Homo sapiens: one gene and its partner. The gene in region 2 interacts genetically with the main gene of each other region. Each region holds a gene or a part of one and is shown on either strand. Other genes may lie near its edges.

The links.
Region 1: changes in FLT3 (region 2) and GAGE12E together harm fitness less than expected from each alone (positive genetic interaction), as found in Homo sapiens cells (one study listed by BioGRID).

What each region holds. Positions count from the first base shown.
Region 1 is NC_000023.11:49,549,171-49,552,919, reverse strand, and holds the start of GAGE12E (G antigen 12B/C/D/E), read right to left. Parts: upstream 1,632-3,749; 5' UTR 1,524-1,631; intron 485-1,523; 5' UTR 477-484; coding exon 393-476; intron 1-392.
Region 2 is NC_000013.11:28,051,977-28,055,725, reverse strand, and holds part of FLT3 (receptor-type tyrosine-protein kinase FLT3 precursor), read left to right. Parts: intron 1-2,802; exon of another isoform or gene 2,803-2,894; intron 2,895-3,051; coding exon 3,052-3,181; intron 3,182-3,749. UniProt on the Homo sapiens protein: Tyrosine-protein kinase that acts as a cell-surface receptor for the cytokine FLT3LG and regulates differentiation, proliferation and survival of hematopoietic progenitor cells and of dendritic cells.

The sequences.
Region 1 (3,749 bases), on a different chromosome or scaffold from region 2:
GAATACATAGCTATTTCTGGTCCTAACTAAGCCTAAAGACATTTCTCCAACTCTATGCTCTATGCCCAATAAGGTTACTCCACCCACAGGGAGGTTACTGTGAGAAAAGTGACGCACGAGGACTTTGGGGGCTATTATACTCTGTGTTGGAATACATGTGTACAATCTGTCATTAACAAACAAAGCCGGAGAAAGAAGTCATGGGCAAAAGCTGAAGAACACGAGAGGAAAAAAAAAATCCTCCAGAATCAATGTTTCCTTCATGAGATGCCATCCTCATTTTTTATGAGCAGGAAAGACCTTTATCAGCATTTCCACACTAATGCAACGACGCTATCACAAAAATTAATTTCTACTAATAGAAAACATCGAATTAACGTTTAAGCACTCACCCGCATAGGCCCAATCATTTCAGGAGGCTGTACATAGCGCCTTGGTCTAGGCCAATAATAGGTCGATCTTCCTCGCCAACTCATATTTCACACTGAAAACAGACAACCGTGATTGGGAACGTGCGCTCCAGAGGGCTGCTATATTCGATCACTTCCATGGATAAATGTTAACTTGCCGTTTTACTTTTGAAAATACTCTCAAAATAAGTCCCAGAGTTAAGCATACGTGTGTACGCTGTCTGAGTGCCTACAAAGCCACTTCTGCTGGCCAGGCTGGCAGAGCAATCATCTTAAGGCGTGTGGCAAAAGGCAGAGGACATTTTTTTCTAAATTTCTTTTGGACACGCGGTCTCGCTGTGTTGCTCAGGCTGGAGTGCAGCGGCGTGATCACAGCTCACTGCAGCCTCGACCTCCCGCTCAAGGGATCCTCCCACCTCAGTGTCCCCAGTAACTGGGAATACGTAGGCGAGCGCCACTGCGCCCCGCAGACAGAGGTCATTTCTGATGAGGTTTAGTTTCACAAGTGCACTCCCCACGAAAACCCTAGTGAATCACAATTCTCGTGATTGCTGCTTTGGGCACACTCCCACTTCCTAGAGCCATTCACCCCCCCTCACAACAAGTTTGGTTGGACCGCACTGCCTCGCCCACTCCTTCCCACTGTTTTCGGACCTTCCATGGCGGAGGTGAGACCTTGCAGTGCTTCTCACTCGGGCGCTCCGCACTCCACACCGCTGAGGGGGCGCTCGCCAGGCCGCAGCCTTCCCAGGTGCCAGGCCCCTTCTTCACCGCCCGCCTCGCCCCCGCCGGGGGCCCCATTCAGGGAATCTGCCCTGTGTCGTCGGGGATCCCGGCACCTCGGGACTTCCATCCCCCCAACAGCACTCACCCCGTCTTCACCTGAGCCCCTGACCGCCTCCCCTCCACGGCCCACCTTCCTCCCCGTCCAGGCCCCTTCACGACCACGAAGCCGCCGGTGGCCTCGCAGCCTGTGAAGGGAAGGAGGACGACCTCGTGGCCCTTCTCCCTCGGAGGCCACAGACCAGGAAGCGGGACCCGCTTGACCCACCCGAGGCCCTCTCCACCCTCACTCACACTTCAGCCCCCGGGATGACTGGCCTGCACACCTACCAGATGAATCTCAGTAGAGGAAAAAGAGTCCGGACGGCAGGAACCACACAGCACTGCCTCACAGCTCCCTGGCGTTCTTCACGTGGGCGAAGGGGCCGGGCAGAAGACGCCCAGTGAACATGCGCACTGAGGCGGGAGCCCAGGGAGCATGCGCGGCTGTGGGCTGGGGAGGGCTGCCGTTCCCAGCGCCACGCCCCAAACCCTCCATGCCCATCCTCATTGAGGATAAGGGAATCCCACCTCCCTCTGCTGTTTCCTATGCCTCTGGGACTCAAGTAGTGCTCCCCTCAAAACTCACCCCATCTTCAACTGAACCCCACCCCCAACCCAGGGCCCTCTCTTGCCCCGGACCCACCATGGGGACAAGGACCACTGTGACTGGCTGGGAAGACAGGTAAACCACCTGCGAAAACAGAAATAGCAACCTATCCCAAAAGGAAATTGTTCAATGTGAACAAGTCAGAGAAAGAGACTGAAAGAAAAATGAATAGAATCGCTAGGACCCGTAAGAAAATGCTAAAACGATATCTATCATTTGTAGCATCAGAATCGCAGAGGGTGAAGTGACAGTATTAGGGAAACAGGACAGCCAGAGTGACACCACGTGAAAATATACTCCGTCTTGAAAGCAGCAAGATACATAGTCCTACCAGTCACAACCCATGGTCCTAAGATGTTTGGAGTTGAGAAAACAGATGAAAGGTACCTCCAAGGACATGCTCCCACAGCAGCGGAAAGTGCACGGTTCCCAACACCCATTAACAATATATGCTTTCAACAGAATTATGCTTTCATGGACTTACACACTGGTAAGTCAAGGACAGTTTTCTTTAAATCAATAGAATGATAAAAGTCATCATGCTCTTAGCCCACCCGCACAAAGGCACAGATTAACTTTAGTCTTTATATAGATAAGACCCCTATATAAGAAAAACCAGACCAGGCCAAGGCTCACGCCTGTAATCCTAGTATTTTGGGAGGCTGAGCTGGCCAGATCACCTGAGCTCAGGACTTCGAGACCAGCCTAAGCAACATCAGAAAATCTCATCACTACAAAAAACAAACAAAAAACCATCGAAAAATTAGCTGGGCATGGTGGCATGTACCTATACTCACAGCTCCTCAGGAGGCTGAGGTGGGAGGCGCACTTGAGCCCAGGAGGTCAAGGCTGCAGCGAGCTCTGATAACACCACCGCACTCCAGCCTCGGTGACAGAGTGAGACGCTGTCTCAAGTTTTAATAATCGAACCTAAAAACGTACAAATTTATCAATCGAATTCACTATATTAACACATGAATGGGAAAAAACGCTGTGGTAATCGAAATAGATGCACTGTTTGATGAAAATCAACATATATTCAAATGAATACTCTCAGCAAATTTGGAACAGAATGCAATGACTCACTCTGATAAAGTCCGTCTACAAAAAAAGGAGAGTGAATAGGATGGCGAAATGTTGAAATTTTTCGGTTTCTCATCAGGGAGAAGACAAGGATGTCCACTGTCACCATTGTAACGGGTGGGTCTGCGCAATGCCATAAAATCAGAAAAGGAAATAAAACTCTTTACAATGCCAACGACGGGCCCGCCACGGTGGCCCACGCCAGTAATCCCAGCACTGTGGGAGGTGAGGTGGGTGCATCACTTGCACTCAAAAGTTCAACAACAGCCCGGGAAACATGGCAAAACCCCGTCTCTACAAAAAAATACAAAAGGGAAAAGAAAAAAATATGGCGGAAACAAAACTGCTCTTATTCCAGGATGATATGTTTCTGTATATTGAAGACTGAAAACGACCTAGAAGTAAACTTTAGAATTCACAAGCATATTTCACAAGGCCGCTGGATAGAAAACCAATATGTAAGAATTATGTCTCCACCGGGCACGGAGGCTCATGCCTGTAATCCCAGCACTTTGGGAGGCCAAGGCAGGTGAATCACGAGGTCAGGAGTTCAAGAGCACCCCGGCCAAGATGGCGAAAGCCCATCTCTAGTAAAAACACAAAACTTAGCCAGGCGTGCTGGTGGGTGCCTATAATCCCAGCTACTCGGGAGGCTGAGGCAGACAATTGCTTGAATCCGGGAGGCGGGGTTGCAGTGAGCAGAGATCGCGCCACTGCACTCCAGCCTGGGCGACAGAGCAAGACTCCGTCTCAAAAGAGGACAAAGAAAAAAAGAAAAAAAAAGAACGATGTCTCTACATACCAGCTCAGAGAGTTACAATACA
Region 2 (3,749 bases):
TGTTATACTTAGGGTATATTCCTTTCACTTAAGATTTACAATGTAAAAATGTAACAACAGTTATTCAGGTAAATTATAACTTATTTTTAGCATTCTGCAAGGTGGTGGGATCCAAAAAATAGGTGGGAGAGATGTGGCAACAGTCAGTGTGAAAAAGAGGAAAGGGTTTAGTCAACCACAAGCTCAGTATTAACCACCAGCGTGGCATGGTTGCCAAAAAAGTAAATTTGAACCTTGGCAGTGTTCATGAAAATATAACGTCTAAATTAAGGAAATTAATAGAAGCTTATTCATTTCAGTTCTACTTTTTTAAAGATGAATACTGACAAAATGAGCAACCAGGATAGTGGAAAACTTGGAATTCTTTAAATTAGGAGCAGTTGAAGGAATTGGGAATGTGTAGTATATAGAAGGAAATGTTTTGAGGAGACGATAAGATTGATTGCAGTGTAATGCAGAGGAAATTCTTTTGGGATTTGAGTCAGGAAACCTGAGCTAACTAGTTAAAGTACCTTGTATGGTAATTATCTCCCTTGATCTCGGTTTCTGATTTTAAATATTTGAAAGATTTTCATATGGAATCAAAGCTAGACTTTAAAAAAGTTGCTCTAGAGGATATGATAAGAACCAATTGTTAGAAATTACAGGGAGAAAAAGTAAAAATCACCTCAAGATGGGAAAAAATACTTGCAGTTCACAATCAACAAAGGATTAATAGTCATAATATGTAAAGTCAATAAGATAAACAATCTATATAAGTCAATAAGTCAATAAGAAAAACGAACAAAATGAAAACCTAGTAGAGCAATGAACAAAGGACATGAGTAGGCATTTCATTTTTGGAACATGAAACCTAAATGGTCAAGAAACATGTTAAAAGATAAACTTAGGCACTTTAAAGTTGTAAAGAGTATATTTGAGCAGAAAGCAATTCATGAATCAGGCAGTACCAGATGGCAAGCAGGTGGGCTCCAGTGAGGAGATTCAAGGGTAAGACTTCTTTCTATAATGTGTTCCCGGAAGCAAGACAAAGAAAAAATTTGATTGTTTAAAGAAGGACAGTCCCTGGATTGGTCAGTTTGCAGTTCCTCATTGATTAAGCTAAGTTGCATTTTGCTGCTCATATTGAATTGGGTTTGTTTTTTGCTTTTTGTTGTTGTTGTTTTTGTAGAGACGGGGTTTTGGCATGTTACCTAGGCTGGTCTCGAACTCCTGGGCTCAAGCGATCCTCCCGCCTCACCCTCCCTAAGTGCTGGGATTACAGGCGTGAGCCACCTTGCCCGGCCTTTATTCTTTTCCTTTTTTTTTTTTTGAGTTGTGTTGTGATTTGTTTACCTAGGAACTCAAGCTGTTAGAGTTGTCTCAGCCTAATGGACTCCCAATTAATTATTTTAACACATGTTAAATTAATAATGGAGAAATTAAATTAAGACCACAATGAAATACCATTTTATACTTGCTGGATTGCTGAAAATTAAGAAGTCTTGGTAAGTCTATAAAGCAATAGGTGCTCTCATATCCTGCTGTGTAACATAAATTAGTATAACCACTTTGGAAAACAAATGATCATTATGTGTAAGGCTGAATGTGCTCATACCATGTAGACCAGCAGTTCCACTCTTAAGAATGTTATTAAGGAAACTGTTATACACATGCCTCAGTACAAATGTGTAGAATGTTCAGAGCACATGGTTGATCATACAAAAAACTGTGGCCGGGTGTGGTGGCTCATACCTGTAATCCAAGCACTTTGGGAGGCCAAGGCAGGAAGATCACTTGAGCCTGGGAGGTTGAGGCTGTAGTGAGCTGAGATTGCACCACTGCACTCCAGCCTGGGTGACAGAGACCCTGTCTCACACACACACACGGAAGGAAACAACCCAAATGTCTACTGCAAGAAAATGAAAAAATAATGATATATTTACCAATAGAATATTATGTAGCAGTAAAAAAAAAAATGAATAAAGTATAGCTACATGTAAAACCATGGATGAATTTTAAAAACATAAGGTTGGATGAAAAAATGAAGTTGTAGAAGTTACATATTGATTGATAACACTATTTTGAAGCTCAAGAATGAAAAAATCAATATATTGTTTAGTGCCACATATTTATTTGGTATAACTACTTTGAAGAGTCCTCGAATAATCAACAAAATTCAGGATAAAGGATACGTGCAGTTGAGAGGTGGGGAGAAGCATAAAAGTAGATCAAAAGGTATTTATTAATATTCTAGTTATTAGGTGGATAGTGGCTCCGTGGGTATTTGTTGTTGTTATGCTTTGAAATTTACACTCCATATATTCTTTCATATATATATATATATATCAAACAGTACATAGTATTTTCAAACAAAATTTATTGTAAGGAGAGAGGCTGGAATTCAGTATAGGGAAACTTTCTTTAAAAAAAAAAAAGTTTGTCAGAAATTAGAATGACCTGCCCTGGGAGGTCATGAACTCCAGTCTCTAGAAGAGTCAAAGTAGAAGTAGAAAGTTTATGTTAGAAATAGCTGGGAGTGAAGGATGGTGTGTGTGTGTGTGTGTGTGTGATCCAGGGTGAGTGGGAGGCTCAACTAAACCTCTTAAGTTCTGTTGCAATTCCAACTCCACCCTACCATGTTTCTTCTGTCTTTCTAAATCTTAGTATATTTCTGCCTAGTTGCAGATCAAATTATAGGAAGAAAGTTGAGGTCTAAACTATGTGTTAAACAAGGGTTTAAGCCATATGTTATTGCTAATTTCCTTTTTCCTGTGCCTATCAATATTTGTATTTTCACATGGCTTCACTCGACTACTTTAGTTAGCTGTGGATTTGTGAAATACCCAAAGAAATTGGCCAAGAGGAGAAATGTTCAAGTTGACACTGCAGCCACAGCTAAATTTAATATAATGGTTGGTTTGCTTTTGATGCCTTTATTATGAAAAAAGAAAAAAATATGTATACGTAATGGTTGAGAACTTTTCATAATGACATAGAATCCTTTTCTGAGGGGCTGCTAAGAGAATTATTTTTAAAATAGTAAAATGTTAATAACTTATGATGCTTTAGATACCCTGCTTTACACATTAAGAAGACCTTACTTTAGAAAAATGGAAAACCAGGACGCCCTGGTCTGCATATCTGAGAGCGTTCCAGAGCCGATCGTGGAATGGGTGCTTTGCGATTCACAGGGGGAAAGGTATGACACATCCATGGTAGCTGCTATTCTCATAATTTCCTTTTGGCCTTTTTCTAATGTAGTTGACATCAAGCTGTATGTAAAATTTAATTTATGCTCATTTAAACAGGAAACTTTGGCTTCTTAAAGTTAAAAAATGGCCAGTATAGGGCCGGGTGAAGTGGCTCACGCCTGTAATCCCAGCATTTCGGGAGGCCAAGGTGGACAGATCACTTGAGGTCAGGAGTTTGAGACCAGCCTGGCCAACATGGTGAAACCCCATCTCTACTAAAAATACAAAAAATTAACTGGGTGTGGTGGCAGGCACCTAAAATACCAGCTACTCTGGAGGCTGAGGCAGGAGAATCTCTTGAACCTGGGAGGCAAAGGTTGTGGTGAGCCAAGATCACGCCATTGCACTCCAGCCTGGGCAACAAGAGCGAAACTCCGTCTCAAAAAATAAATAAATAAAATTAAAAAAATAAAATAAATAAGTAATACAGAATGGCCAATGTGGGCTTCACAGGGAGGACAAGGATTTTTTTGGTAAGGGGCTTTTTGGAACCCCTCAAATCAACTGCAGGGCCCT